2 separate regions of the Homo sapiens genome follow, and region 2 is linked to region 1. Evidence: fine-mapped QTL for protein levels in blood plasma. A gene starts in region 1. The other region holds a variant in brackets. All regions are shown on one strand. Distances are between the middles of the regions.

Region 1 (16,759 bases):
GTTTAGACAAAGCAGATCTCAGTCTATCCAAAAGCTATGCCCAAGGCTTATACCAATCAAAGTAGCTTCAACTCTTCTCTGACGAATCCTTCATGCACCTAACGCAATGTGGCAGATTGTACTTTCTGTAATGACTGCCACTGCACATCTCCCATCCCAGCAGCTCTCCTTACATGACTTCAACACTCCTCTCACTGAGAGGCAAAGTCTATGTCCCTTTCTTTTAAATCTGGGTGGGGGCTTTAGATTGCTCCAAGCAATGGAATGTTGTAGAATGGATACCATATGACTTCAAAGTCTAGGTAACAAAAAGGACACAGCTTCTGCCTGGCTCACTTTTTGGGAGGATGATCACTCTGGGAAACCCAGCCACCAAGTGGTGAGAAACAATACCATGCAGTGAAGCAACATAGGGAGGCCGCCATGAAGAAGACATGAAGCTCCCAGCAACTACTGCTGAACCTGTGAGTGAGTGAACCTTCAAATGATTCCAGCCTCCAGGCTTCAAGTTGCCCCTGCTGACATGGAGGGGAGCAGTGACAAGCTATCAACACCAACCCTGATCCAAATTGCAGGCTCGTGGGCAAGGTAAATATTGTTATTGTTTTAAATGACTAAAATCTTTAGTGCTGAAGCACACCTTCTTCTGCATTTCTCCACATCATTCTTTCCATTCCTCTAAGCATGGCCTTCACCATCCTTATCTAATCACTAGTGTTTTTGTGTCCTCCAACAGAGCCAAGGAATCTCATCTCCAGTATCTGTGAGTCTCACACAGAAAAGGACCCCATAAGAGCTGTAGAAAAATCTTTGACCCTCTTTTTTTCCAGATTCCATGGAATTTAGTGGTGTAGTGGTTAATATCAGATGCTCTGGAATCAAGCTATGATGCTCAAACCCTGGCTACTCCCTCCTCACAGTGTGAGATTGAGCAAGTTACTTAACTTCTCTTGATCACAACTTTTTCATGTAAAAATAGAGATAGTATCAATACCTACCTTGCATAATTTCTGGGATAATTCTATGATAGGAAGAACATAAAGTACTTAAAAACATAAGGACTCAGTAAATTCTAGTTGTTGTTATGATATAGAGTATTTTCTCATTTATTCAGCAAACTAATTAGCCACATACTCTTTCTAAGGTACATTTTAAGTTTTTTTCTTGCACTTGTCACTGTGTTTCATTTCAATCAACTTTAACATAATCAAGCCACAGATTTTTTGGCCATTATTTTATCTTCAGTTGTTTATTGATTGTTTAGTTAGGCAGGCCAGTTAGAAATGTGATGAGCTCTGATATCCCCGAGCTTACAGGCACCAGCTCTCCTCAAAATATTAGAGAAAATGTATCCCAGCTCACATGTTTTGCACATCTGTGTTCTTCTGACCCTATGACTCAGCCCTGACTGCCATTAGACCCCCTGATCTGACCCCAAATGACAAACTATATACATAATCTCTCCCTGGCACCTATACTCAGCATGTGGAGTGAGCCAGCTTAGCCAGTATCATCCAGCACATCACACACAGCTCCTGGGGCCCCAGACCGGTTACCTTAGGATATTCTTTCCATCAGCCAGCCACTAGGTGAGTGGACCGGAAACAAAAGCACTAAAGCTAAGGTGGCTGTACAAATTCTGAATCAGATGAGTGCGGAAACATCACTAACACAACAAACACATAATAAGTACTGTCAATAATAGAAACTGTAAATTTAAAAAAGAAATAGAAAAGAAACACAAAACATGACTTCTTTTTAACTTTCCTTCACAGCCAATGAGTCAAGTCTTCTTCCATCATCAGAGGAGGTGAAGATGCAGAAGAGAGCGGCCACACTTGAAGAGTGAATGAGAGCAGCAGGAGCCCCAGGGGAGGGACCTTGCCTCTTCAGAAGACTGAAGCAGTGACAAGCGAAAAGAAGAAACCTTAGTAAACTGATTAAAGAGAGTTCACCTCCTCCATAAGACACAGGCCAGACCTGGATAATAAGGAGGGTCATAGATAGCCCTGGAAATAGATGTTATTTTCCTTGCAATACATCACTTTGGCCCACTGTGCCTTGGGCTGCCCCTCGAGTGCCCAGGCACCCAAGCACCTCTGAGCTTTTCTCTCAGGACGTTCTCTGGAGCTATAAAAATTTGTTCTGTCCAAGAGCAGTCTTAGCCCTCAAGTGAGAAAGAATTAATGCTCCTAGAGACAAATTTCAACCACCTGGAAACAGGAATTACCAGGCAAATGACCCAGCCTCCTGAATTTTGGAAAGACAATGCTGACATCCATTCTTTATGGATTCTCAAAGAGTCCCCAGCAGGATTCAGCTCCAGATACCCACAGCAATAGGTAGCTCAGTAATGCACTCATGGTTAGCTCTCCTTATTTTCCCTGTTTCATTCTTCCTACTTCCTCGCTCCAGTCTCTTGGAATTATCTCAGAAAAAAAATTAATTACCTCTAACTAAATCCTTGTCTCGGCCTGTTTGTTGAACAAAAGACTCAAACTAAAATCCAACTGTATTGGGTTGAATAGTGTCCCCCCAAAGTTTATGTTCACCCACCACCTATGAATGTGACAGCATTTGGAAGCAGGGTTTTGCAGATGTAACTAAGTTAGAATAAGTTCATACTTGATTAAGAGGGACCCTAATCAAATGACTGGCATCACTTTAAAACAGGTAAATGTGGACACAGACACACAGGGAAGATCACCCAGCAACAGATACAGAGATTGGAGCAATGCATCTACAAGCCGAGGCAGTGGCAAGGATTGCTGATACCCCTAGAAGCTAGGAGAAGCATGGGACAGACTTTGCCAGACACTTCCAGAAAGAACCAACTCTGCTGATACCTTGATTTCAGGCTTCTGGCCTCCAGAACAGTGAAAGAATCAATTTCTGTTGCCTGCTGCCAGCAGTTTGTAATACTTTGTTATAACAGCACTAAGAAATTAATACCCCAGAGTGTCTTAGTCAGGGTCCAAGAAGACAGAAACCACTCCAAATATTTGCAAACAAAAGGAGTTTATTCCAGGGAACTGATTACATGACAGGAGCCAAAGAGGGTAAAATGAATCAACCGAGAGATTAGCAATAGCAGGAAGCCACTACCACACCTAGCTGGAGGCATGGAGGGAGCAAGCAGTGTTGCCAGGACCCTGATCACCTGGCAGAATATGAAACCATATCTAGCCTGCCAGGTGAGAGCTGGAGCCAGGAGGAGAGCAGAGGAGTCATCCTGAAACAGTCCGCAAGCTAAGAAGAAAGAGTGGGAAGGAAAAAGACCCTAATTCTTCAGCACCACCCATTGGCTTGGTCCAAGAAGACAGAGCTGTCAGACAGAGAAATCTGTGTGATGTAGACTGTGTCACAGAGAAGAGCAGCAGGAAGATGAGGGCTGGATCTGAAAGCTACCTGGGCAAGGATCCAAACCAACAACTCCACTCCAACCCCATGAGACTCAAAGGAGGAGAGTTTAAGCTTTTGCTGTTTTTTAAATAAATTACTAGGATCCATAATAATACCAGTAAAAGGTGAGATCTGAAGGATGAGAGACACTATGAAGAAACAGTGTGAGACAGTAATAATGCACTGATGATCATGGCAGTACAAAAAATGGGAAGTCCTTCATGAGTCAGGTTTCTTTAAACCCACATGCAACTCCCACTTAGATGGACACAACAGTATGTGAAGACTCATACTGTGTTCTTTTGTTCCAAGAACCACCACGGGAACACACCAGGAAAACCAAAGGAATTCACACACCCTTTGAAAGAAGCAGGACACTGCTGCAAATTTTGCAAAACAGGTGAAAAACTGTAAGTTCCCAAAGTGTGAGAGGGAAAAAACCTGCCTCTGAACACACATCCCCACTGGGGAATCTGAAAATCCAGATCAAGGGAGAATTTAACCTTACCTTGAACTGAAACAAATGTAGGCAGTCACACAAAATATAAAAGTAGAAGTATCAGTATCAGAAGACTGCAAGGCACTTCCAATCTTCAGCTTGAGCCCAGGGAAGCCATTCCTGACTATATCTCACAGGATCTCTCAGGGAAGGCAGCCAGTGGAATTGGGGAGGGGTCACCAGGTGAAGGAAGCTTCCAACTGAAATTGGTAGTGGTTTCAATTGGACACAAACTTTCTTTAGTGGAGTCTAGGGGACGAGTGGGAGCTTTGGCAATATGAGCACATGAACTCAGAAGCAAAGAAGCCACTCCCGTTGGAGTGGGCAGATGGGGAGGGGTGATATCTGAAATCCATGCTTGCTTTCTCAGTGGGAAAGTTCACAGCCTTGGGCAAGATCTGAGTGGGGCACTTTGGGAGTGAGACTGGCCTTGCCAACTGTGTGGGAGCTGGGTGAGACCTCTCGCTACCAGCTTTCCGCCACTTCCCTGGTGAATTATATGACACAACAGAGGTAGCCAAGATCCCCTCTGGAAAATAACCCCATTGGCCTAAGAACCACCCCCACATCCCGCACAGTGGCCACAGCAAACCCCACCCAAGGAGACTCTGAGCCCAGACCCACCTAACCCTGCCCCAACATGATGGTATTTCTTTACTCACCCTGGTAACCAAACACAAAAGATAGAAACTCTTGGGAGCTTTCAGGCCCCACCCATCATCTGAGAAACCAAAATACTCACCCTGGCCAACTTAGGGCAAACCTAGATCCCTCTACTACCAATGCAGCTGGTGCTCTCTTGAAAGCACCACTTCTTGGCTGGAGGCCAAACAACACAGGCCATTACAGCAACTCATGACAGAATAACCCTGAACCCAGGAAGGAGAAGATAACACCTAATTCCAATGCCTGCAACATCCTGGCTAAACAGAGGTCCTGAGTGTGTCCACATGAAAACTTCACTGCTAGCATAACCAGCATTCAAGAAACCCAGCACACTACACATATCTACAACCAAGGACTCTCACAGAGTCTACTTCACTCCCCTTCCACCTCCACCAGAGCAGGTAATGGTATCCATGGCTGGGAGACCTGAAGAGAGATCACATCACAGGACTCTTTGCAGACATTCCCCAGCACCAGCTGGAACCTGGTAGCGCCACTGGGAGGCTAGACCCAGAAAAGCAGTAACAGCCAATGCAGTCCAGTGGTCAGAAAGTCCCATCCCTAGGGGAAGGGGGAGAGCACCACATCAAAGGATCACCCCATGGGATAATAGAATCTGAACAGCAGGACTTGAGTTCCAGACCTTTCCACTGAAATAGTCTACCCAAATGATAAGGAACTAGAAAGGTAATTCTGGTAATATGATAAAACAGAGTTCTATATCACCTCCAAAAGATCACACTAGCTCCCCAGCAATGGATCCAAACCAAGAAGAAATCTCTGAATTGCCAGATAAACAATCCAGAAGATCATTAAGCTACTCAAGGAGATACCAGAGAAAGGTGAAAAAACAACTTTAAAAATTAAAAAATATATATATACATAAATATAGGATATGGGTGAAAAATTCCCCAGAGAAATAGATATCATAAAGAAAAAATAATCACAACTTCTGGAAATGAAAGCCATGCTTAGAGAAATACAAAATCCACTGGAAAGTTTCAACACTAGACTAGAACAAGCGGAAGAAAAAACTTCAGAGCGCAAAGACAATGCTTTCAAATTAACCCAATCAAACAAAGACTAAGAAAAAATAATTTTTAAAAAATGAACAAAGCCTCCAAGAAATGTGGGATTATGTTAAACAGTCAAACCTAAGAATAATTGGTGTTCCTGAGGAAGAAGAGAAATCTAAAAGCTTGAAAACCTTATTTGAGGAAATAATTGAAGAAAACTCCCCTGTCCTTGCTAGATACCTAGACATCCAAATACAAGAAGCTCAAAGAACACCTGGAAAATTCATCACAAAAAAGTCTATCACCTAAAGTCCTATCCCAGTTCTGTTAAAGTAATAGCAGGAATAGCACCTTATAAATACCTAGAAAAATAGTAGAAGGAAACATGCTTAAGCATTAATAATGATCTCCGGTGGTAGAATTTTTGGTAAGTTTAATTTTATCATTTACATGTTCCTACTTAACTATACATATATATTTATATATATTCATATACATAAATATACAAACATATGTATATATACACATTTTTGTTTATGGACAGCCTATGACTGTGAGCCAAGGGACATCAGAGACATGGCTCTCTGGAAACTGAGAGAATACTTAGTGGACAGTTTTTTGTTTGTTTGTTTGTTTGTTTTTGAGATGGAGTCTCGCTCTGTCACCCAGGCTGGAGTGCAGTGGCGCGATCTCAGCTCACTGCAAGCTCCACCTGGGTTGACGCCATTCTCCTGCCTCCGCCTCCCAAGTAGCTGGAACTACAGGAGCCCGCCACCACGCCCGGCTAATTTTTTGTATTTTTAGTAGAGATGGGGTTTCACCATGTTAACCAGGATGGTCTCGATCTCCTGACCTCGTGATCCACCCGTCTTGGCCTCCCAAAGTGCTAGGATTACAGGCATGAGCCACCGCGCCCGGCCTTAGTGAACAATTATTATCAGGATGATCAGCATCCATTTTTCCATCACCTGGCAACAACAACTAGCATTTCTCAAGGGAAATCCCCTCCTCATTCATAAGCACCATAGATGGAGTGGAACAGTCCCCACCTCAGCTTAAGGAGGGCTAAATAACCAAAGCATAAAGCAATCAGTCCACTACACTTCAGTGGACCCAATGATGACTCATTTTGGTTCAATAAATATCAAGTCCAGAACTTTTGTGCAGAACTGTGGAATAAAAAAAGTTATCTTTGTCACAGAATATTTATATTTAAAGAGGGGATTCTAAATATCCCAAAAATATGAATCTGAGATAGTGGTAAGATAGGAATGGGTTGCCATTTGCAGTATTTGTTGGGTGTGTGCAACTCTGCATACTGCTAAGGCAAGTCCAGCCTCCGTCTCACACCAACAGGCAGATTTCCCCACCACGGCCCTTACCATCTTGTGCTCTAACCCCAGATTTTCAGTCTACTCTTGCTAACCATCAATTCTTCAAGGGCAAGAGCCATGTCTCTCATATCCCTGGATCTGGCTTGCTAAATAATTATTCATGATTTTATCTGAGTAGAAAAAGAGCCAAGAACTGAGAAAAGGAGACATTCTTGGTTCTCAGTCACTGAGGAGCTTCTGCAGTACCAGCCTTTCTGCTAGCTGCAGCCACAGCTTCAACAGCTCCACCTCCTTGTTCTTTATTCTTGCTTTCACCTTGTTACTCAGCAGCAGGGGTGTAAATGTGACAGTGCCATGTCAACTTAAACCAAACCAGATAATTTTAATAAACCACCTTCTATAATGACACCCATCAAAACCAGAAGGGGACAAGTCTAGGAGGTCTCTGAGTTTACTGTACCCATCCCTCCTTCATCTCCCTCCAGCATTTGTTTCTGGAAGGAGTCAACACCAACAGCTCTGACCTGGGCAGCCTTCCTGAGAAAATGCAGCCATTCCTCCTCCTGTTGGCCTTTCTTCTGACCCCTGGGGCTGGGACAGGTAAGTGACTATCCCTATTCCAGAGGCCTGAACCCATCTTATAAGATACCCTGTACCCATGAGCACTGGTCAGGAATTTTCCTCAATCTGAGCCCACCTCCCATTCCACACCCAGACTTATAAATCTGAGGCTAGATAGACACTCAGCAAAGATCGAAAAATGAAGGGTGTTCCCTAAAAGGTTTAATGGGTGTTAGCCTCTCCCTAGACCTCTCCTTTATGACCTGGAGTGTGGATTGTTCTTAGAAAGGCATTTGGTAGGGAATGTGAAGCTAAAAAAGATAAGTAATTATTACTCTACACTCCAACCCAGGAAAGAGGAGCTCAGACACCAAGTTGCAGTCATAGGAGTTGTTACTGGACTCAGCTTAAGAACCACTTATTCAGTGCCCCCACCCAGTCACCCCTGCCAGGAGGGAAGCCCATGGTGCAACTGATCTCAGAGATGGCAAGATGACTGTGTCCATAGCTCTCCCATTACCTTGGCTCCACCTGGGCTTTGCGATTCATTTTTAGTTGATTTCTCCACTTCCTTCTGCCTTTGCAGGCCCTCAGCTACTCCACTGACCTGGTGATAACCCCCTCTAACATCCCTGAGGTCCTGAATCCCACCAGCACTACCCCCACTAAACCTCAGCCAAAGGCTAATTGGAGGCTATTCATTTATGCACCAAACAACACTTACTGAGAACCTAGAATGTGTTCAGCCCTGGCACATGAGAATTTTAGAAAATCCAACTCCAGAAGCTCATGGGTAGATCATTAGAAAATGGCACCAATCAGGAGGACAGCAGAGGCTCAGAGGAATCAGAGAGACTCACTAAAAAGGAGGAGCCTGGGAAGTCCTGTCCAGGATCCTCTGGGGCTCTACCACTGTGAAAATAGATCTTTCTTCCTCCATGTGTGTTTCTGCAGTAGGATGCAGAAGTCAAGCACTGTCCATTCTTTCTGAGAGAAGGTTCTGAGACTTAAAGTTCAGAAAAGCTTGCTCTGCCTGCAAGGAGTACTGCCTGCAGAGCTCAGGAGGACCCCTCCCTCACTGTCTGCAGCACACAAAACACTTCACCCTCAATCACTGTCGTCCTAAGCCTTCTCTCCTGACTGCAGCCATCCCCAGCTACTTTATCTTCCAGTCTTTCCTTTCAGAGGAGATCATCGGGGGCCATGAGGCCAAGCCCCACTCCCGCCCCTACATGGCCTTTGTTCAGTTTCTGCAAGAGAAGAGTCGGAAGAGGTGTGGCGGCATCCTAGTGAGAAAGGACTTTGTGCTGACAGCTGCTCACTGCCAGGGAAGGTAAGGAGCAGCACCAGCTCACCTCCTGAGTTCCCCCTACAGGGACCCTTGTTTTCTCCTGGGGACTGCAGCCCAGGGGAGCTTCCAGAGTTCCTGGTAACACAAGCCCATGAAAGCTCATCGGAGCAGCCACCTGGGAATAGGACTAAGATGATGAAAGGCTGAGAAATAGGACAGGGTCAGAGGGTCAGAGGGTCAGAGGTCAGAGCAAGTGGCATGGTTTCACACACTGGCCCAATAAGGCAGTAGTAAAGGTTGAATCCATGCATTAAGGATCAAAATGCAAACTCGAGCAATTTCATGATATTTCCTGAAGGCAAGAGAGAGCCCCCAGAAGCCCTACTCTTCATGTCTTTGTGAAGTAGAGGGCACAGTCACTCAGCCCTGGAGCCCTCCTGTCCCTTCAACTTCCCCTCAGCTGCAGCCCTACCCTGCCACAGCTGTCATCTGCTCTTCACTGCTCCTGGGCTCTATCCCCTGTGACTCCACCCCCATCCTCACTCTGCTCTCTGTGCAGCTCCATAAATGTCACCTTGGGGGCCCACAATATCAAGGAACAGGAGCGGACCCAGCAGTTTATCCCTGTGAAAAGACCCATCCCCCATCCAGCCTATAATCCTAAGAACTTCTCCAACGACATCATGCTACTGCAGGTGAGGCACACTCCTGCCACTCTTGCTCTTCTTGGTCCAGTTGGTTCCACTCCCACTGGGATGCCGGCCCTTTCCTCCTTTCCATCCTGACCTCTTGGTCAGTTCCTGTGCCTTAGAGGAGAGGGAAGATTGTGCAGCCCCATCACTGTGTCGGGGCCCAGAAGGCCATTGCCTGACCTGGACTTTCTTGCTTCTTCCCCACCAGCTGGAGAGAAAGGCCAAGTGGACCACAGCTGTGCGGCCTCTCAGGCTACCTAGCAGCAAGGCCCAGGTGAAGCCAGGGCAGCTGTGCAGTGTGGCTGGCTGGGGTTATGTCTCAATGAGCACTTTAGCAACCACACTGCAGGAAGTGTTGCTGACAGTGCAGAAGGACTGCCAGTGTGAACGTCTCTTCCATGGCAATTACAGCAGAGCCACTGAGATTTGTGTGGGGGATCCAAAGAAGACACAGACCGGTTTCAAGGTTGGGTTTCCAGCCTCTACCCAGAAAGACCACAGGGAGAGAGGAACTTGAGGGAGTTCTGGGGTATGACAGTGGCCAGATCTTTATGCTCTCAGCCCAGAGCTTGGGCAGCCTGTGTCCCCCTGGAATCTAGTCTTTAGTCCACTCCTTGGGTGGACTGGGGTGGCTGGAGGGGAAGGATCTGTCATCCGACAGTCACTTATCACCAAAGTGTCCGTGAGAATTGCAGAGAAAGGCTTGGTCTGGGGAGAGCCAGAAAGCACAGCCAGGGCCATGCTGGAGACCCAGGACTGAGGGAGGTGAGTGACAAGGCCTGCCTGGCACTGATGTCACACAAAATCCATAACAGAGACCACCCATCCCAGGGAACACTAGCTCAGTCTTTCCTCTCTCTGTTCACAGGGGGACTCCGGGGGGCCCCTCGTGTGTAAGGACGTAGCCCAAGGTATTCTCTCCTATGGAAACAAAAAAGGGACACCTCCAGGAGTCTACATCAAGGTCTCACACTTCCTGCCCTGGATAAAGAGAACAATGAAGCGCCTCTAACAGCAGGCATGAGACTAACCTTCCTCTGGGCCTGACCATCTCTGGGACAGAGGCAAGAATCCCCAAGGGGTGGGCAGTCGGGGTTGCAGGACTGTAATAAATGGATCTCTGGTGTAAATATGACTGAAGTCTTATTTATTCACTGAACCATCTTCAATATGCAACAACACTGCTCCAGGCAGCCGTCTGCTGTCAGTTCTGGCTTTTGCTTCTTCCTTTCTCCCCCAGCCCTCCCTCCTCCCTAAACCCCATGCTGTACAGTTTTTTCACTAATTTCTCAATCACATGTCTTTGATACTGAACCCTCTGTTAGAGCTGGTTTGAACTCCATTATAAACAAACAATCTTCACCCCTCTCCCTTCACAAAAAAAAATAAACCTCTCTGGACGTTAGGAATTTCTTATCGTCTCTAAACCAACTACCTACTCCCCTAACAACGTAGCAGAGAATGGAGCAGGGCAGTGGAAAGGAAATAACTCCAGGGACTCAGAAGGCCAGGGGCCATGCCATGAGTACTCAGTTTCCTATTTTCAGGGCCTGTCCCTCCAATGGGGGCAGGCTTCTCCCACAGCCAGGTCTGCCTGCAGCTTAGGAGGTTGAGATGCTCCTCTGCACCTAGGTCCCTCTTCCCTGCCCTGGGCCCAGCCCTGAGCTCAGTCAACCTTCTTCCTTCCTGGCCGGCCTTCCCAGCTCCCAAGAGTTTTTCACCCAAGTGCCCTGGCTACCAGTTTCTTTCCCTTCTAGATCACCCTGTTCTGAAGCCAGCCTCTCTCTCATGTCCCTAACAGAGTTCCCAGCTCTGTGTGAATTCTTCTCTACTGCTTGTCCCAGCCAGACCTCGGCTGCCAGCCCACCTGATGCTGATCAGAGGAGCCAGCTCTCACCTTCCACCTGGGCAGGGCTAGCTGAGGCCCTCAGTCCAGTGCAGCTTTCCCCAGGGTCTCAGGCATCACCTTCTGGGGAGCCACCCAGCAGCCTCAACATCTTTCAGCCTAGCCTGGCTTCAGACCCAGACTCCCCCTGTTGGCAATCTGGGGTTATGGCAGCTGTGCACCAGAGGGCTCCAGGGCCACTGGGCTGGAAGTAACACTATGCCAGTTATCAATAGACTAATACTTGCTGATCTCTCTCTTTGTGCCAGGCATATAATAGGCCCTGTCCCTGCTTTTGGAAATTTTACAATGATAAAAAGTTTCATCTCAATTCTCCTGGTTCCTCTGCTTCTACCAGGCAGGTCAGTTTGGCACAAACGGATCTGTATTTATAATCTACAAGAAATCTTGTTTTAAAAATAATTAAATTATCTATATTCTACCTGTAGTGTTCATTACAGCCTCACATGCATGATCTGGCTTGATTCCAGAAGGACAGTGTGTGAAATTAGAAGAGACTTGGAGATTCTCAGGTCCTAAAGTTTTTAATCTATGCTCAGTGGAGTCTGTGTCCAGAGGTGTGGAAGTGTATTAGTCTGTTCTCACATTGCTAATAAGAACTTACCTGAGATTGGGTAATTTATAAAGGAAAGAGGTTTAGTTGACTCACAATTCCACATGGCTGGAGAGGCCTCACAATCATGGCGGAAGGTGAATTAAAAGCAAAGTCATGTCTTACATGGCGGCAGGCAAGAGAACTTGTGCAGGGAACTCCCCTTTATAAAACCATCAGATCTCGTGAGACTTATTCACTATCACGAGAACAGCACAGGAAAAACTGGCCCCCCCGATTCAATAACTTCCCACTGGGTCCCTCCCACGACATGTGAGGATTATTACAATTCAAGGTGAAATTTGGGTGCGGACACGGAGCCAAATTATATCAGGAAGGAAGGAAGAAGACAACCAGAGCAGCCTTGGCTTTGTTTATTCTGCATATAGAAGACATTAACCTCAGTCCACAAACTTAAGAAATGCTACAGTTCAAGTGTGAGACAGTTAATATAATAGTGACCCCGTTGACTTTATTTAGGATCCTGATCTCTCAAATAGTACTGCTAATGAGTTAAATGTGACAGAACACTGTAAACTCACAATAGCTGGCAAACACTGAAACAAATGGGACCAACACTGAAAAAAGTAGAAACTTCACTGAAAAGAATAACAAATAAATCACACGCATACAGGGAAAAAATCCAGCACATTGAAAAATAAGAGGAAAAACAAATAGACTTATTTTTCACATAAGGCTGTCATGATGTCTATCTCCCAAGCCTTTCCCTGGGAAGCAGTACTGGCAGCAGCACAGGTGAGAGAGGAGTCAATATATGCAGAGATAAGCAAGTGACCAGCAGCACACGTAAGAGTCAGGGGGCCATCACATAGAAGAAGCACAAAGACCCCAAAAAACCAGCCAAGTAGAGCTCTATGGAGTCCCAGGGTGTAAGCCAAAGACAGCGGCAGAGTGACCAAAGATTTCTGCCACCAGGGCCAAAGGACCCTAGTAAGAGAGTGCCTGGTGGGTCAGTCTTCCCTCTTAGATCTAACAGAAACACTTGACATTGAGCATGGGACTTTATCCTATGTAAGATCTGAAGAGTGTGTGTGTGTGTTGTGTGTGTGAAGGTTATTCATAAATATGTTCATTGCAACATTATTTAATAATAGAGCCCATATTAGAATCAGTATTCATGTCCAAAATAGGGAAATGGTAAAATATCATGCATTCAACATATCCATTTTGCAGCCATTAACATCTACATTATCCACAGCTATAAAAAACTAGGCTAACAACATTAATAGGCAAGTTCATTTTTAAAAAAAAAACTCATAAACATTTGGAAAAAAGTAAACATTTGGAAAATAATTAATCAATACAAATTAAAATAATAACTTTTGCTTATCTGATTGGGAAGGATTTACAAAAATGATAATATTCAGATTCAGTATAAGCATTGAGAAAACGGTATTTTCACGGCTTGTACACAAAGATCCAAAAAAGAAAAGAGATTCTTTGACCTGCAGGAGCTGGATTTTATGTGGAAAAAAAAGTATTTGACCTAGCCATCAACCACACAAAGAAAACTGAACACAGTTTTTCCTTATAACAACCTTGGTATACAAGTAAAATCTTAGAAACAATGCAAATATCCAGCACTAATTGGGGGATTCATTTTTTAAAGCTGCATATTATTAAACACTATGAAATCCCTGAAGTTACGATATATAACTACATTTTGTCACATGGAAGAATATTCACCAGGTATGTTTATGCTAAAACTAGATTATAGATTGGTATATACTACAATTAAATTTGTGCTTATATACACTTTTTTTCTTTTTTTCTTTTTCCCTGAGACAGAGTCTCGCTCTGTCACCCAGGCTGAAGTATAGTGGTGTGATCTCGGGTCACTGTGGTTCAAGTGATTCTCCTGCCTCAGCCTCCCAAGTAGCCGGGATTACAGGCATGTGCTACCACCCCCAGCCAATTTTTTGTATTTTCAGTAAAGAGGGGGTTTCACCACATTGGCCAGGCTGGTCTCAAACTCCTGACCTTAGGTGATCCACCTGCCTCGGCCTCCCAAAGTGCTGGTATTACAGGTATGAACCATCACAGTTGGCCATGCTTATATACACCTTTTTCCTGTAGGCATTTTTGCTTCCTATGTATCTATTTTCTTAATTTTTCTATAACTTTTATGTATTATTTAGTAAATTAAAAGTCTGTTTATTAGATATGAATAACATTTTAAAATGATATTCACTAATAGATTTTTAATAAAATGAGGAAAATGTTTATGTTAATTTAAAATATATGATTCAAAAATAAATATATTTTAGTCACATCTATGTAAAAATATACAAAGAAACAATCTGGGTGAAAGTACATCTCTGTTAACTGTCAGCTGGGTGGTAGGATTAAGGCTGACATGATTCTTCTTTCTATTTTGTAATGTATTCAACTTTTTAAATTTTACGATTATTATATTAACTTTATTTTTTAACAATATTCCATATGAGAAAAAGGTTGGCTTAAGTTTGTACATGTGTGAATTAAGATAACCCTATTATAACAAATAAGCTTCAGAATTTCAGTGACTAGCACAACAGAAGTTGATTTCTGTTCTTTTTTTGTTTGTTTGTTTTTTTGAGACAGAGTCTCGCTCCGTCGCTCAGGCTGAAATGCAGTGGCACGATCTCGGCTCACTGCAAACTCCGCCTTACGGGTTCACGCCATTCTCCTGCCTCAGCCTCCTGAGTGGCTGAGCCTACAGACGCCCGCCACCACGCCCGGCTAATTTTTTGTATTTTTAGTAGAGATGCGGTTTCACCGTGTTAGACAGGATGGTCTCAATCTCCTGACCTCGTGATCCGCCCGTCTCGGCCTCCCAAAGCGCTGGGATTACAGGTGTGAGCCACCACGCCCGGCCGAAGTTGGTATCTTGCCCACACACAGTACAAAATGAATATTCCCAGTGAACAGTTGCATCCTTTTATTCTTACGTGTTCCAGTTTGGCCAACAAATTACATGGTCAGCCCAGGATTAAGAGATCCAGGCTCAGTTCTCTAAAGATCCTTCCCCAACTTCTTCTGCATCAAACCATGGAAGAGGAAAAGCCTAGATGATCAGGCATAGGAGTGTGTTCTGGGCCAGGTCTGGAAGGTGCCCACATCATTTCCACTCACGTTCATTTACTGCAACAATCACACAGCCACACCTAACCCCAAGTGAGGTGGACAACGTAGCTCATCAATGAAATGAACTACATTTCTTCCCTCAGAAGAAAAGGAAATTATTTTGCCAAACTGCTGGCTTGTCTCTATCAAAATGCTTAATGGTGTTTACTGTTTATAAGGATCATGTGCTCTACATTTCTTCTCCTGCTTATAAAACGAATATATTTCCATTATAGAAAAAAATCAATAATATAAAGTGAAAATAAGAATCACATAAAATTGTTGTTCTGATTATTGCCCTTTTCCCACAATTCTGTCAAATTCGTGTCAAATTGTATAGTTTTACACTCTACTTTTTCCATTTAATATTAGGTGATAAAGATAGCTGGCTAGAGGCAGCCAGCACTTGCTTCCTCCACAAAGAAAGACTACAACAGTAGGTAGATAATCACGTATCAAATAGTATTTCTAAGACAGAACATAAGAATTCAGCATAAGCCTGTCCCTGAGACAAAGTGAGCCAAAGCACATGTTCCTCAGAGCCTGAGAGCCATCTGCCTGGGACCACTGCCACTGACAGCAACCCTGTATCGCCACCCTCCCCAACCCATACAGCAGTGCCACTTCTAGGGTCCTGGGGACTGGCCCACATGGAGTCTGTCCCAGGGCTTGTGGACAGGCCCACCCTACCCATTGCTGCTACCATCACCTCTGCTGCCACTCAAGTGCACCATCTGGGGGCCTGGATATCAACCCACCCCACCCATTGCAGTCTGCACCAGCACATATCATCAGAGGACTTGAGGACAGGACTATTTTGGCTGGCACAGCCCCTATCAGTGACCACATGCATCATCCAGGTGTCTACAGATGGACCTGCCCCTCCTGCTACTACAGGCTCCCATGCACACCTTCTGGGAGACTGAGATCATCCCCACACAGCCTAACAGCACTCACACACATCATCTGGGTCCCAGAGATTGACCCATTCTTCCCACCACCACTGGCACCCCTATGCACACCTACCAGGAGCCAGAGGACAGGCCTGCCCATTCGGCTGCCACCACCACTGCCATCAACCACTTGCACATGCCACCTAAGGGCCTGAGGACTAGCCCACCCAGCCTACTACTGCCACCACTAACATATGCACATGCTTTGTGGGAGGCTAAGGGTTGGCCTGACACTGCTACTGCCATCACAAATGCCAAACAAACCACCCAGAGACCCAAGGACCCTCCTGCCTTGGGTCCATCACCAAGACCTGGCCCACTGCTGCCACTGCTGGCACCCAAGCAAGCCATCTGGAGGCTTAATAATTGACCTGAAAAAACCCACTACCATCAATGCTCAAGTAACTGCCCAGGGGCCCAAAGATCAGCATATCCAACCCACCACTGCCACCACTGGTGCCCAAAGACCAGCCCACCTGGTGTCCCCATTTGAGAAAAGTTTTACCGTAGCCTCCACTAATAACTGCAGCCTAAGATACTCAGGAACTCACAGGCACCACTGATACTGATTATACCCAAAGAAATCACACAGAGACTACACTACTGCCTCTTCCCAGAATCAAAGCCAAAGTGCTTTACCCAGCCACCACTGTAGATACACCTATAAGGAAAAGACATTGTTCTATGAAAGCCAATCCATAAAATTGGAAAAAGTGGCTGT
Region 2 (16,759 bases), 76 kb before region 1:
TGGGCGTCAGGAGGTCTGTTTTCCAGTTCTGACCCCACCACTTGAGCCATTTGGGTAAGGGACTTAATCAAAATAGAGTGGTTTCATAGCTGTCAAAGCACTCAAAGCTATAGTCACTCAGCAGATTCAGTGCCAAATGACTTTCTGTTAAAGTCGTTCTACTTAGAACCCCCCACTTTGATCAAAAAGTTAACACATAGCTGACCACAAACCCCAAGCACTTTGGAAGGTGAGACATTGTCAGATTGCTGTGATAAGTAAATAGAGTACAGTGTGAAATTTCTAGAGGGCTGTCAGAAGAGAAGGCCTCTAACAGGAAATGCCGAAAGATCCTCCCAGTAGAATTTTTTTTTTCCCGGAAACTTCCTAAGAATCGCTCTAAATGTCACTATGCACAAACCCACTTGATCATCTCAATGGAACTGCGCCTTTCAGAAGTTCGACTGCGGCCCCAGCTATTGCTCTGAAACCCATCGCTGTGTTTGTGCTGAGACCTTGCCTCCCCAGGGCTGCTTCCAGCTCAAAACTGAGCATGACCGAGACTGAGACAGGCCCATTCCTCGGAAATGAGGGCCTCCTCTGATGCCCAGCTTTGACTAGGAGCCAGAACTATGTCTCAAACTGATGACTCTTTTGGCCCCTTTGACTTCCTGCCCACCTCAGACATTTCCCAAAGAGATCTCTTGCACATCTTATCCCATCTTTTTTTTTATTTTCTTTTTCTTTCTTTTTCTACTAAATAGATAAATATAAATATATATTTCTATTAAATATATAAATATAAATAAATATATAGTTCTATTAAATGTATAAATATAAATATATATTTAATTATATGTTATAATTAAATATATAGGAATTAAATTATAATTAAATTGTTTTAAAATTATAATTAAATTATAAATATATAATAACTTCTATATGTTTAATTATATATTATAATGTATTTCTGGAGAGAGAGAGAGAGAGACAGGGTCTTGCTCTGTTGCCCAGGCTAGAGCGCAGTGTGTGATCATGGCTCACTGCAACCTCAACTTCCTGGGCTCAAGCCATCCTCCCACTTCAGCCTCCCAAGTAGCTGGGACCACAGGTGTGCACCATAGTGCCTGGCTAATTTTTCTTTTTTTTTTTCTACTTTTTATAGAGGCAGAGTCTGCCTATGCTGGCCAGGCTGATCTCAAACTCCTGGGTTCAAATAATCCTCCTGCCTCAGCCTCCCAAAGTGCTGGGATTACAGGCACAAGCCACCATGTCCAGCCTTCATCCCATCTCGGTGCCTGCTTCCTGAAGGGCCTGGACTCACATGGCTTATTAACCAGTTCATAACTCATCGAATGAATGACTTTTTTTTTCGTTAAATTGTTTAGCCTTTTCAGGCAGAGCCACCAGCTCAGTCTCTACATAAATACAGTATTAAAAGTTTCACCCAGCTAAGCCAAAGTAGACATTTGGGTCTGGAACTAGCAGTGGGTCCCCTTTCTTATATCTGCGTTTTTTTGACTAATTTGCATTAAGGCTTAAAAAGTTTCGGGGACTAGAACTCAACCTGTATTAATAACTGGGGGCCAGGCATGAACAAATATGACTAGCAGACAACTGAAGGAGCAAAGAGAAACCAGGTTAGAATGAGGCACTAGGTACCTCTGAACATCCACCTGTGAACTGAAACTGTCCTTTCCAAGCAGCCCTGTCAGTGTTTACCTGCCTTGGGGGAAAACGTGGTATTTGTGTAAAAGTAAAAGCGTTGACCTTCACGCATTGCTGGTGGGAATGTACCTTGGTGCAGCTGCTGTGGAAAACAGTTTGGCAATTCTCAAAAAGTTAAACATAGAATTGCCATATGATCCAACAATTGTATCAAATAGATGCTTATAAGCCAATTTTCATAGCAGCATTATTCACAATAGCCAATAGATGGAAACCTCCTAAATGTCCATCAAAAGATGAACAGGTAAAAACAAAATGTGGTATAGCCATACGAGATATTATTCAGCCATTAAGTCATGAAGTTCTGATGCATGCTACAACATGAATGAATTGGAAGACGTTATGCTAAATGAAAGACACCAAAATAAAAAGATAAGTATTGTATGATTCTGCATATATGAGGTACTTAGAATGTGGCAAATGCATAGGTAAAAATTAGATTAGAGGTTGCCACGTGTTGGAGGAGAGAGAAATAAGGAGTTATTTTTTAATGGTTAAGACTTTCTGTTTGGGATGATGAAAAAGTTTTGGAAATAGTGATGTTTGCACAACATTGTGAATGTAATTAGTGCCGTTGAATTGTACACTTAAAAGTGGTTGAAACGGTAAATGTTCTGTTGTATACATTTTATAATTTTTAAAAATTAATAACACAATATACCAAAAAACACTGATTTGCACACTTTAAACGGGCAAGTTGTATAGTATGTGATTATCTGAATAAAGCTGTTTTCTAAAAAAAAGCCAAAGCACTGGAGCAGCTCTGGGCCATGAAACCTGGCTGTGGGATCCCGGTAAGAGGGTCAGACCCAATGAAGACGGTGGGTATTTCCCTCTCCATTGGCAAGTGGATGGCAGCAGCAAGGGCCCACACACAGGGCAGGTGGCATTTCCTGGCCAGGTGGGCAGCTCCAGTGGTGTCATGTTAACCTGGAGGAAGCGCCTGGAAAGAGGCTTGCAAGTGAACAACAGCAAAGCACAAGCCGCCAGAGGAGTGAGAAGGAGTTCAGAGGTATTCTAGAGTGAGCCTTAAGTGAAGAGTGACCCCTGGAGGGCTCCTTAAAATAACAGATGTCGGGGAGACATTGAGAAGGGACAAGGGGCCAGGTGCTTCACATTTCCCCTGGTGAGAACTGTTAAGTGAAACCTAAATACACATGCCAGTGTGACCACAATTACTCCCTACATCATTTGTACTCCCAGGCAGTCAGTCCAGGGGTGCATGGTATTTCAGTCAAGAATTGATACAATCATGTAGATAACTTAACAAATAAGAAAGACAAATGTTGCTTTATTAGCTGAGTTCCCTATTTTTTGTAGGCATGGTGTTTGGGCTCTGGATTACATGTTTCATTTTCTGAATTTTCCATTTCTAGCACAAGTGGGTATACTTAAGAAGTATGAGGAAATGTGGAAATAATGCTGGTTTTTATCAATATAGAAAGGTTAACTAGACCATCTAAAAGACACACTTCTTACAAATCTGGTGGCGACTTGTCCCTTTTGAAACCAGAGCTTCTGTCAGCATGAATGAATGAAATGTTCATTCATCCTAGGAGAAGGACACAAAATACTGAGGTACGTGTGATGATGTTAAAATAAGTCTCTATATTCTGCATGTTGGCCATGCTTCCTCACATTAAATTTCCATGTTAAAGCAATTACCAATGGTTAGACTGTCAACACAACGCTCAAACACCTACCTGGCTACTGCCAGAACACACTGAAATGACGTATTTGTATGTAGATAGTAATATAAGCTATATATATAGCACCACTAACAGGTAGTAGTAGTATGGAAAAATGATTATTTGGGATTATTGTTACTGACAATGCATTTTTTGTTTTTAATTATTGGAGAAGATAACATGTGCAATTAAAGATAGATAAATGGGTTTATAGGAGAAAGTTTCCCTCACAGTGCCCCTTCTTATAGAAGCAACCATTGTTCCTTATACAAGCAACCGTTGCTTCTGTAAGTAGCCATTGTTCCTCCTGGAGACTCAATACGACTTTCAATCATGCTAAAAGTTTATTTGCATTTGGAATAGATCAATAGAGTCATTCTTAGAGACAAACCTCTTTTAAATTAATGCTTTGTTCACAAACACAAATGTATGTATTTGCAAACACATACACACACACAGGTTAGTCAAAAGTCTCTAACAGACTGGAAAAATAACAAAACAATGGGTTTAATCACTGTCTATAAATAGAAAAAAAAATCTCAAAATGTATAGAATTTCTAACACCTAAAAATGTTTGAATATTGATGATTGACAAGATTTTTCTGGCAGTGTTTTGTTTTTAAAAAGTGAAGTTGCCCTGTGGAAATAAGTGCTTTTTTGTAGTGACTTGGACACCACATACTGTATATGGTATGTGTAGAAATGTCCACAAAAAATAGCTATAACTTTTAAACCATTTTTCTCCTGGCCCATTACTCTGCAGGGGTAATTTGAGTAGGCATTGATGATGATAAACACCACAGTTTAGAAGATGTTAAACCAACCTTATCAGAGCTCACATAGAGAAACAAATTAGGCAAACTGCAGTAATTTCAGCTAATGAAGTTTGATTCTAAACATCCAGATCAATTAAGCTTCAAGTACTTGCTTGGGTTCCTGCTCTGTAAGGCAGTGAGGATGTGCTAGTTGGAGGACGGGCTGGGAGGACTCATAGAAGTTTATAAATAAAGATGAAAGAAGTATTCAGTGCTTCCTGGAATATATTTCACAGGCTTTACTGAGTGAGGATCACATCATATGAAACTGAAGGAAAAGCACATGCTTCATGTGGAAGGTTCATCTATGTGAACCCTCCTTATTGAGGGCCTCCTGGGTTGCAGTGCTCTAAAGACCTGGTATTGTGAGAATGTGGCCAGCCTTCTGCATAAAACTACACTGTAAGAAAATGGGCATAAATGAGGTAAAATGGCTTCCGTGGAAGGGTGAGGATTGCAGAGGCTGGAAGTCAAGAGACTGAGAGAACTTAATCCTAGCTCTGCCAGGAACTACTGTATTTTCTTTCTCTGAGTCTTGGTCTCCTAATCTACAGAATGAGAGATCTAGAATGGATCATTTCTTCTGCCTCTTCACTTTCTTACGGTCTCCATTTCAACCCAGGTCTTCCTCTGAGCTGGTGAGAAGTTCTAAGTGCAGAAGTGTGTATCTGTGCTGGGTGTGTGTGCAAGAGCACACAGTTGCGAATGCACGTGAGAAGATGGAGGACAGCAGGAAGGAAAGGAATGAGGAAGCAATTCCCAACCTGGCCCTCTCCTGAGTTTGGATGGATAAGTATGTCTTTAGAGACGTTAGCCTCCATTGGTTACGTGCCCAGTCCTGTCCTGAAACTAATTCAGACCACTATTCGCTATGGTGGTGGCAAGTTGGGGATTCTCACCAGACACACATCTGAGAAAATTGACCCTTACAGTCACACTTACATATTTGCCCCACCCACAGACCCAGGCTGAAGAAGTCAACATTTTATTCCCTTCCATTTCCACTTCCTCTCTGTTCCTTATCACCATGGACACCCACTAACCCCACCCTGCTCAGAACCTCCTAGAAACAGATGGCAACTCAGATAAGTGGCCTCCAAATATTTTTAGAGCATATATTCCCTATCTGTGAGTATTTAGTAATAAAATATACATGCATTAGTGGTATACTATATGATTGCATATATTATAAAAATAGAAATTAAAATCACATAAGTTTATAAAAGAACAGAAATAGACATTTTCATTTTCCTGCCACACCCAAGTTTCATCTCATGCTCCCCCTGGATGCACGCATGACATAAGGTTTGCTTTTATGTCATTGGCATCAGACTGATTTGGGAATGAGCCTTGACTCTACCCCTTACCAACTGTGGGGAAAATAACTAAGCCTCAGTTTCCTCATCAATAAAACAATACTGTACTTCTGTGTGGTGTTGTCAGAAGGATTTTCATCATCTAGACATTTTCTTTATTCCTCTTCAAACTCTTTTGTCTCATTTATTCACTCGTGCATTTTATTATTTATTCTACAAATATTTATTAAGCATTTTTAATTCTTTAAGTGCTGTTCCGATTGATGGGAATACATAAGGAACCAATACAGTCAAAATGCTTGCCCTTGTGGATTTTATGTCCTAGTGGGGAAGACAAAGAGTAAACAAATAAACATATTATGTCAAGTGATGAGTGGTCAGTATTGTGGATACAAAAAGGCAATATAAAGTGATATGAATGTGAGCAGGAGCTATTTTGGATTGAGTGACCAAAAGTGTTTGTTGAGGGGTGACATGTGGATAGAGACCTGAATGAAATGGTGAGAGAAGGCATCTGAGGGATTTATGAAGAGCATCCATTCAAGGGACCATACATGTGCAATTTCTGAAGCAGAAATGAGCTTGGCATCTTCTAGGACCAGTAAGAAGCCAATGTAGCCACAGCAGAAGAAATAAGTTAGGCAGTAACCAGATTATGTTGGACCTTAAAAACATTTTCGGGACTTTGAATTTTATTTGAAGTATGCTGGAGAACTGCAGGAGAGGACTAGAACCACATTGAAGGCCAGTTAGCATGACTCTCAGGGACTCCTGGATAACAGAGCCTAGATCTACATGACTGCATTCAGGAATCACTTGGATCAGGCTTTATCAGCCTGGGGAAGATGGGGTGTCAACTGAGGGCTGTATTTGCATCTAAACCTATGGTGGCATGCTGTTCTCTCCAGTGATCTTAGATGTTGGATAACCCTGAATGTACCTGGTTCAGCAGAGTTGGGCTCCAACCACAGTCCATACCAAGAGACACACGGAACTCTTCCAGCCTCATACTATACAAACTATAAAAAAAGAATGAACTCATGGTTGCTGGTGTTTGTTTGTTTGTTTGTTTGAGATGGAGTCTCACTCTGTCACCAGGCTGGAGTGCAGTGACACAATCCCGGCTCACTGCAACCTCCGCCTCCCGGGTTCAAACGATTCTCTTGCCTCGGCCTCCCAAGTAGCTGCTACTACAGGCGCGCACCAGCACACCCAGCTAATTTTTGTATTTGTAGTAGAGATGGGGGCAGCAACATGGAACATGCAGGAACTGGAGGCCATTATCTTAAGTGAAACTACACAGAAACAGAAAGTCAAATACCACTTGTTCTCACTTAAGTGGGAACTAAATAATGTGGACACATGGACATAGAGTGTGGAATGATACACATTGGAGACTATAAAGTGGGGAGGGTGGAAGTGAGGTGAGGGACAAGAAAGTACTTAATGGGTACGATGCACATTATTTGGGTGATGGTTACACTGAAAGCCCAGAATTGACCACTATGCAATATATCCATGTAACAAAACTGCACTTTGTACTCCTTAAATGTATACAAATTTTTTTAATGAACCTAAAATGAGATGGTTGAGCTTCCAAATGTTCTGATGTGACACTCACTCACTCAGACATTGCTATCTGTGACCTGTGGCTAGCTAATGAAACTTTTTTTTTTTTACACTTTAAGTTCTAGGGTACATGTGCACAATGTGCAGGTTAGTTACATATGTATACATGTGACATGCTGGTGTGCTGCACCCATTAACTCGTCATTTAGCATTAGGTATATCTCCTAATGCTATCCCTCCCCC[C/A]TCCCCCCACCCCACAAGAGTCCCCAGAGTGTGATGTTCCCCTTCCTGTGTCCATGTGTTCTCATTGTTCAATTCCCACCTATGAGTGAGAACATGCGGTGTTTGGTTTTTTGTCCTTGCAATAGTTTGCTGAGAATGATGGTTTCCAATTTCATCCATGTCCCTACAAAGGACATGAACTCATAGCTAATGAAACATTTCGAGATCCAAAAGCTTACAATCACCACTTGTCCAGAAAAATGTTGCTGATACATTTGATGTGTAGTCTACAGGGGCTTTTACTGTCCTTTAGAGAAGTAGATTTCTTTTGATTTACCCAAGTGTATAAATTTCTAATACTGATCTTTCTGTCACTCTGAACCTACTATTGACTTGACCATGTAGAATAGAAACCCAGTGTCTGTGTAGGAACCAGGACGTTGCAGGGTTTGGGGCAGGGACTAACAAGATATAGTTTGCATGCTTCAAAGATCTCTCTGTCTTCTGTATGAGGAATTTATTCTAGGGAGGCAAGAATAGAAGCAGGGAGACAAGTTAGAAGATTATTAGGATGATGGTGCTGGCGATGGTAAGAAATCGGGATGTATATTGAAGGTAGAACCAGCAGAATTTACTCATGCATTGACTATGAAAGGGAAAAGCGAATCAAATAAAACTTGGAGGTTTCCTCCTGATTACCTGGGAGAATACTGATGGTATTTATTGAGGTATGGAAGGCAGGGCATAACAGGTTGGGGTGAACAGAGCACTCAGGAGTTTTGTTTAAGGCATATTAAATCTGAGATGCTTATTGGACATCTCAATAGCAATGTTGGGTAGGCAGTTAAATATATGTTTGGTGCTCAAAAGGAAGAGATGCCAGTGCTAAAGACATACATCTGGGAGTCTTAGAAGATTGTATTATTGACCCCAGCTATTTGCTCTCTTTCTGGTCATGTGACTTTTTCTTCCAGGGATGACTATACCTTCCTTCCTCATGGAATTTATGAGCATGTTCTGGCCACCCAGATGTAAGTTTCCTATGTCAAACTAGAAGTTTCTGATGTGATTATCTGGTTTACCTCTGTTTCTATTGTTCCTGCTCTCCACACTATAAGAACAATATGTCCAAGATAAGGGTGGCTACATCAGTTCTGGGTCCTGAAATAAAAAGACGCATGGACTTGAACACAGTCAAGCTGAGCTGAGTCACAGATAATCCCTCAGCCCTCATGTAACATGAACAAGAAATCAATAAATGTTTATTGTTGTTAAATACTGATATGTTGGAGTTATTTGCAACCTCAGTAAAGGCCAACTAATAAAAAAATTGGTAACAGAAGTGCTACCATATCTAAAAATATAAAATATGAGGCATTAACTTTAGGGCTAGGTAGCAAGGGAATTCTTCCAGGAGGTTGGACAAGTAAGATTCATGATATGCAGTCGTGAAAAGTTTGGTCAAATTGTGTCTTCTAAACTTGGAAGGCAGATAATGTTCCTAATGGACTTGCTGCATATGGACAAATATAGAAGGATTGAAAAATTGAAAGAGAGCATGATGGTAATATGAATAAGAGGTGAGCTCAGAAAGAATTCACCTATTTCAATGAATGAGATGGAAAATAGGCAGCAAAGAAATTCTGGGCCTTCAAGTTTGGACAATAAAATCCTTCTCACCTCCCACCTATAAAATATAAAATTTAAGTATTCCTTGAAATAGAAAGGCCTTTTAATACTCCATCTCAGGGCAAAGACAGAACCAAAGGTGTCATCATCAGGCCTATGTTAAGATTTCTGGTTGGATTAAGGTGACTTGCAGACATTTTTTTTTCCACCACTGGACAAAACGGCTCAGGGAAAAGAGATCAAGAGTACGTTCCTATGAAAGCATGATATACCCACATACCCATAATCAAGTCTAGAGAAAGTCTTTCTTGAAATGAGTAATGGTTGTGTCTATTGGAACATGGATCCAACCAGTACCAAATAGATTAAAACAATACAACAAAGTGTTTGAGAGAGTTAGGTTGTCAAAAGTGCTGCCAGTCTGTGACTATTTGAAAAGCAAAGTTGGCCCTTAGGCTAATTTGCTTTTAAATGACTTTAGAGATGGGGTCTTTTTCTGTCACACAGGCTGGAGTGCAGTGGTGTGATCACAGCTCACAGCAACCTCAACCTCCTGGGCTCAAGTGATCCTCCTGCCTCAACCTCCCAAAGTGCTGGAATCACAGGTGTCAGCCAGCCCTTAGGCTAAGTTTTTATGGGCAAGAATATGATGTATTCTGAGGGAAGAAAATATATGTGATCAATGTTGGATCATGATAGATTATTATTCCCAATTATTTGTTCCCATAGTCTAATAGGATGATTTATCCTCACTCACTTTCTGTCATGTGAGTTGTCTTCCCTCTTCGGAGAGACAATGTGTCTCCACTTCACATATTTGGATACATGAAATAATTCAGTTAATAAGATGTGAGGACATGTACATATCTGAGAAAAAGCTTTAAATATGATTTCATGGTTTGTGTTGCACTCTCTTGCTCTATTTTCCACAATAAGACAACGTATTCCAGAAAAGGGCTCTTCAATCTAGGATAAGTCACACTGAGTTTAGCAAAGCTAAGCAGAGCCACAGCTGACCCACAGCCTTAGCGTAAATGGTCAAGAAATAAATCGTTTTTGTAAGGCAGTGAGATATTGGGGCTACCTGCTACTGTGACAGTAGTTAGTTAACACAGGAGTCATCTGTGTATGGGTAATGTATTTAAGGCCATAGAACTCAATGAGATTACATAGGGAATAAGCACAGATAAAGAGACAGACTGAGCCTGGGAAGAGGAGACTCCAGGAAAACAGACTGAGAAACCATGGACAAAGATGTTAGAAGGAAGCAGGAAAGAACCAGATGAGAGGCCAGTAAAAAAACAAACAAACAAACAAACGTGCTTTATGAAAGACAGCATAGTCCATAGTGTCAGACACTGCTGAGGAAAAGAAAAAGATACAGAAATGATACTAAATTTAGCAAGGAGGAGGATATTGATGACTTTAACAAAGATGATTTCCATTAATTGGTGGGAAACATAGATTGGCAAGAATTGGATAGAATATAAGTTGAAAAAATGAAGACAAAAATACACATTTTTTTTTATAAATTTTCATTAAAGGGAAGCAGAGACATGAAGAATTACCTGAAGGGAATGAAGAAGTTTACAGACTCCTGTCTCATTTTGTTTTCCAAATGAGAGATAGCACAGGATGTGTACATGTGGATGGGGAAATCCAGTAGAAAGCCATCATTTCAAGGTAAGAGGATGCACTAATTGATGCTCAGATGAGCAATGAATATACCATATTTAACATTAGAATTTTTATATTGATAGTGTTAGATCATATCATTGCCAAAAACACAAAGAAAGATATTAAAATACTGTCATGCCAGTTATTCTCTCCCCTTCAGTTCTCCGAGGACTGTGGGAGGGGCACCCACAAAGAATAAAACAAATAAGAATTAAAATATCCTGTACTGATGGTGTACAAGTGCCCCAAAACTCCAGGTCAAAGTCCTAATAATGGTTGACTAAGACCCTACAGCTCAACCTTCTTGTCCAAGTCCTGAATCCAATTAATGGGATTTTATCCTCTCTAGGTAACTGCAGAAAGGGCAACTGAAGAGAGTGATCAGTCCTGAATTCACTTTCATACCCCCATGGGATGAAAGAGAGAGCAAGGGAGCAGGGGCTGTGTTTGTGTTTCTTATGCCACAATAAGAAACTGCTCATATACTCAATGTCTTGAGCTCCAATAATTCACATGATTCTTCATCCCCGGCAGAGGTGTTGGCAAAAGCTAGCAAAGTGTGAGTAAAGTTGGTCATGCAGTGGCAAGTTCTCCTTACCCTATGTTGGGAGTTGGTAGGTGATTGTGCTATTCTCCATGGACAACTCATTCATATTTAACTGGGAACCTCTGAACAAAATATCCTAATCCAAAGGCATGGCCTTCTATAGTGTAAATTCTAGACATCAAGGCACAGTACTCCTAAGTCCTCTATTTCTCTAGCAGTAAAGCTGGTTCATGCAAAGCTCAGTCTCCCCTGGGGGCCCTTGCATGTCCATCATACACAGGTTATTTACTATAAAACCTCTAGAAAAATCCCTTATGAGGTCTGTTCCTTCCTTCCTAGGATATTCAAATGGACATTCTCTTTCCAAACAGCCCATAACTATCAAATCACTTGATTTTTAGTGCAAAGAAAGAACAATTGCACCAGAATCCGGTGACCATGCTTTTTGGGTAGCTCACAGAGAATTTCATAATTCAGAATTAATTAGGCAGTGAGCAAGAACAAGAGGCATATTTTGGTGTATTAATTCATGCCAAGTTCAAACTCATTCCATCTCTGTTGCCCGGTGTGAATAATTATGCCATTAATCCCAGGCAGGAGGAGAGCTATTGTGACTACAACACATTTCTAAAGCAAATAAAGAAAAATGTCACTTCTCCCTTTCAACTAATGCTCTGAATACAGCTACATAATAATAATAGTCATTTATTTATAGGGCATAAATTCCCTAGGGCTCAATAAGCCACAGGATAAGCAAAATGCCAGTTAAAGAGAAAAAAAACAGAACTTTTCCAGTTATTAATAATTCTGAAACAAAGCACTTGTTGGGGAGAATGACCAAGAGGAGAAACTGAAAATTTAAGGAGAGCTTGGAAAAGGGCTCAAAGAAAGAGACAGTTGTGTGGCTTTTTCATTTTCTTCTCCCCTCCTGTTACATACTGCTCCCACTGTGACTCAGAGGGCCAGCTGTCTGGGGAAGAAAAATTTGACACATTTTTTAGGTTGGTGCAAAAGTAATGGCAAAAACCACAATAACTTTTGCACCAACCTAATAATCAGCCCTGAATGTCACCCTGATGCTACACACCCTTTGCTGTGAAAGCAAAATAGGTCGACCTGCCCCCTTCCCCATTTCTGAATTCCTTTCCAACTCACAGATGGCTTATTGAGCATAGAAGTATTGGAGGATCAGTGTGGTTTCCCATCCAGCCTCTCTTATGAGGGTCAGAAATGCATGGGGAGTAGCAGTCAAGAGGGTGCCCTATGTGCGTCATTTCCAGCTTCACAATGTTGAAGAGGAGATTGGGGATAGACAGAGGAGTGGCACTATGCAGAAGCAGTTCTACATTTTTCTACATTTCCTCTGAGACAGAAGGAATAGGGTCGAGGCCCACCAGGCAGGAGCCCTGAGTGCCAGAGGTCACAGAAGCAGTGGGGATCAGTCCACACTGCCCTGACACTGGCCCTTCTGCAGAGAGGTGGTGGCTGCTCTGGGTTCACACGTAGCCCTGCCCATTCCGCCAGTCAGAGCTGGCAAGAGATCCTTTAGCCACAAAGGCAGAGTGGCTGAGTTAGGAGATGGGGCAGGCCCTTCTCCTCAGTGGCTCCCACACCTAGCAGTGTCCAGAACACAATTCAGTGTTGCATGAACGAAATGAAGTGCTCTCAGTCTGCCTCTCATTCTTTCTTTATTTCACTTGGGGAAGTCACTTGACTCATTGAGTTTCAGTTTTCCTAGGTATAAAATGCTAACGATATTATATTATGAAGATGAACTATTGGAATTGCTATTTTTGTGGCCCAGAATTTTTAGAATGTCAACAATTTCACAAGGTTCAAACTAATAATTTATTTATTCCTTCATCCATCAATGAATGGCCACTATATGCTTAAAGCTGAGGATTCAGCAAGGAACAAAACAAATGATCTGGCCATGAATCTGACATCTTAGTTACATCTTAGTCAGGGGAGGGCAGAGTATGAACACACAGAGACAGGGAATCTTCTCTCAGGGGTAAATGCTGAAAGAAAAATACATCAGGATATGGGACCAGAGAGTGTGGAGGTGGCTACCCGTGACAGGGTGGCTAAGAGAGTCTTTTCTGAGGGGTTGGCATTCGAGTAGAGACCTGAAGAAAGCAAAGGAGAAAATAAAGATCTGGGAATAGAGCATTTCAGAAAGGACATTCCTGCAGGTGGAAAGGAGTGAGGGGTGGGAAGAGTGGAGGAGGGCAAGGTCAGAGAGTAGGCCATGGGAAAGACTTTGCAGTTTAATTCTAAATGAGACAGGAAGTCATTGGAGGGTTCTGAACACAGATGTGATACATTTTTCTAAGATCGCTGTGGTTGTTTAAGTGAAGCAAGTGAGGGCAAGGGGAGGGGAGAACGACGCAGACCACTTAGAATGTTACTGCTGTCATCAAAAGAAAGATAATGAGGACTTGGACTAAGATGGTAGCGGTGTCCGTGCCAAGAAGTGGTTATATTTGGAATATATTTTGAAAGTGGAGCTAACAGGAATGACCAGTGAACTGGCTGCAAGGTGCGGGAAAGAGAAAGGTCAAGAATGACTCCTAGGCTTTGGGCCTATGGTAATAAGTGGCTGGCGGTGCCAAGGGGGAATGGGGTGGAGCAGGGTCGGGAGAGGAGGAATCTAGAGTTCTGCTTTGCACACAATTGCATTTGTTTTGTCTGTCGGTACATGTGGAGAGTTGAGCGGGCCATCTGGAGCTTCATGGAAATGTCAGGGCTAGAGATAGCTCCTTCCAGCTATTTCGGGGCTAAACTTAGATCAAACACATGCACACTCTTGGGGATCTGTAAAGGACAGGACTGTATGAACACAAGGAATAAGTGACTAGATGCTTTCCCTGGGTTGCTATGTCAAATATGCTTATTAATATTTTAGAAACCAAACCTTTCTTCCCATATTCTAATTGATCGTCTATTCAACAAGTTTTACAATATAAATTTTAAGAATGTGCATTTTTCTAGGAACTCGGTAAAATTACGATTATTTGAAAATAAAATAATGTCTTTTACTAATAGTTTTACTTTCCCTGAATTGCTCCCTCACGTGGCGGGTAAAAGAATCTGCTCTGGACTCCCCAGTCTAGACAGTAAAAGAACTCAGTCTGGACACTAGAGGGCGCAATGCAGACAGTCAGAGCAGCCGCAGGAACTGAAAGGCGGCAATTCAGGAGTTCGCAGATCACTCCCTCTCCTGCTGTGTAAATCAGGGGTCCCGGCATTATGAGTCAAGGAGGGCAGCCCCCAGGCCACCAACGTGTGACCATTTTGATCAGGGGGATAATAGGGCCAGGCAGGGTTTTTCCAAAGGGAGCCCCTGGCAAATTTAAGGCACATCAGAGGAGAAAAAAGAAGTTAAGGAGAGAGGACACGTCAAGGAGAAAGAGAAAGAAAAATAAAGTAAGCAAAAATGAGGGAAACCAAGAAGTGCCTATTATAGAAGAATGGGAGAATTCCAGAAAGTCAGGGACAGAAAGGGCCTCAGAGACTTTTTATTTTTTTCTTTAAACTGGGTCTCGCTGTGACACCCGGGCTGGAGTGCAGTGGCGTGATCACAGCTCACCCCGACCACCCTGGGAGGATCAAGCGATCCTCCCGCCTCAGCCCCCCGAGTAGCTGGGATTACAGGTGCACAACATCACGCCTAATTTTTGTATTTTTTGTAGAGAAGGAGTTTCACCATATTTCCCAGGCTGGTCTGGAGCTCCTGGGCTCAAGAAATAAACCTGCCTTGGCCTCCCAAAGTGCTGGGATTACAGGTGTGAGCCACCACGTCCTGCCCAAAGACCATTTTTATTGAACTTTCTGTTTCCCAGATAAAAGGCTGAGGTGCTTCCTGGAGTTAAGTTTGGAGGCCTCCCAGGGTTGCTGTGCTCTCAGTCAGTGGTCTTCATTTCCCTACCATGTCATCTTCACAAAGTGTATGAACCTTACCAGGTGTCTCCTAGATGTCACATCATTCTCAACAAGCCTTAATGTGAGCACCCACTTACTTCACATATTTATTTTGCTGAGTCCCAAATGAACTGTCAAGTACGAATGTGGAATGCTGCTATGGCATAAGTATGATGATACAACTTGTACTGACATGCTAGATACAATAAATCTGCATTTAAGATGTAATTACAATAACTGGTTTTGTGGCTACAACTTTAAAAGGGCTGTGGGGATGACATTCAATTTCCCAGCATTCTTAAAACATTAAAAAAGTTTTGCATGCCTGCAGCATGCAAAATTATAGATGAAGAATCAAAGTTTTGGTATCACAGATATGGGTTTAAATCCTGGCTTTCAGTGGTTGCTAGCCCATGATTTGGAGCAATATTTCTAAGACCTCTTGCCTTCTCATCTATAAAATGAAAATAATAATAGTACTATGTCAGAGGATTGTTGTGAGGGTTAAATAAGATTGTTGGTAAAACTTCTAGTTCATTGTATCCTCTCAATAAGCAATTTGTAATGTTCACGTCAGAGAAAAACTGATATCCTTAAACAATAAAAGATTCTGAAAACAAATAGGGAAATGGACACAGGATATGAATAAATGATTCACAAAAGGAGATAAATACATGTGAATTAAAGTTTACAAGTAGTCAAAGGATGCAAAGTAAAGCAACAAGTGGAAACATATTTCTCCTCCTCCTTGGTTTCTTATTTCAGTTAAAAGCAGGCTCACTCAATCAGTTGTCTAAGCCAAACACCTGAAAATTAAAATCAACTACTTCCTCAAACACGGGACAATTTGAGCATCAAAATAAATAATAGCATTATAACCTATTGAATAAAGTAAGAATTCCAAAGTCCACACTGATATAAATAAATGAATGTATAAACAGTAAGTAGGAGAGAAGGGAAGGCTTTTCTTTACAGAAGAAAGTCAGATAATAATAAATGTAGAAAGAATGACAAAATCAGAAAATAATTTGTCAGTCATCCTAATAATAATTCTTTTAGGCAAGACGATTGCAACTAGTAGGAGAACATTTAAGGAGTATCTCCCCACAAGATACTTAATTGATTACAAAAGGTAAATTGGTAAATGTACTAACTTACTGGAGAAACCAAGCAGGTTTAATTTTAACCAGTTGATGGAATGTGACACTTCCAATAATGAAACTCGTTGACAGCAGAGCCTCCTGATGTGATGCAAAAACTCAGCATTGCTTCTGTGAGATCCCTGCCAAAAGTCCATAATCTGCATGTGATCATGTGGAACATCAGACAAACCCAAACTGAGGACCATCTACAAAACAACTGCCTGTCCTCTTAAAAACTGTCAAAGCCATGAAATACATAGAAAGACTCAGAAACTGCTCCAGATTAAAGGAAACTAAAGAAAGAAAGACAACAAAGTGCTATGCATGATCTCGAATTTTCTATTGCTATAAGGGACATTATTAGAAAAATTGGAAAAATATGAAAAAATTCTGTAGATTAAATAATAGCACATAGCATTATTAACTTTGGATTTTAATAGTGGTCAAGGTTTAAAAGAGAATTTCTTGCTTTTGGAAAAACACACTGAAGAATTTAGTTGTAGAAAGGCAATATACCTGCAAA

Alleles and levels. Alleles are on the strand shown, and positions count from the first base shown. The strength of an association depends on the size of the effect and on how common the allele is.
For the plasma level of the protein whose gene starts at base 7,391 in region 1, A is the low allele of the variant in region 2 and C is the other (weak association).

Evidence for each region. PIP is the posterior inclusion probability: the model's chance that the variant is causal. The UK Biobank Pharma Proteomics Project read protein levels with antibody pairs (Olink). The fine-mapping took linkage between variants from a reference panel, not from the people measured, so its PIPs are less certain.
Region 2: its variant is fine-mapped to the plasma level of the GZMH protein (UK Biobank, PIP 0.96).

What each region holds. Positions count from the first base shown.
Region 1 is chr14:24,600,317-24,617,075 of GRCh38, reverse strand. It overlaps GZMH (granzyme H), which reads left to right and starts at 7,391. Exons shown (of 5, transcript NM_033423.5): 1 at 7,391-7,517; 2 at 8,664-8,811; 3 at 9,329-9,464; 4 at 9,670-9,927; 5 at 10,330-10,596. The coding sequence starts at 7,463. The coding sequence ends at 10,473. RefSeq lists an enhancer at 10,810-11,309.
Region 2 is chr14:24,676,655-24,693,413 of GRCh38, reverse strand. No RefSeq gene overlaps it. Among named protein-coding and RNA genes, the nearest start is that of GZMB, 51 kb to the right of the region's middle. RefSeq lists a silencer at 14,218-14,397. The variant C/A (reference allele first, on the strand shown) is at 7,339.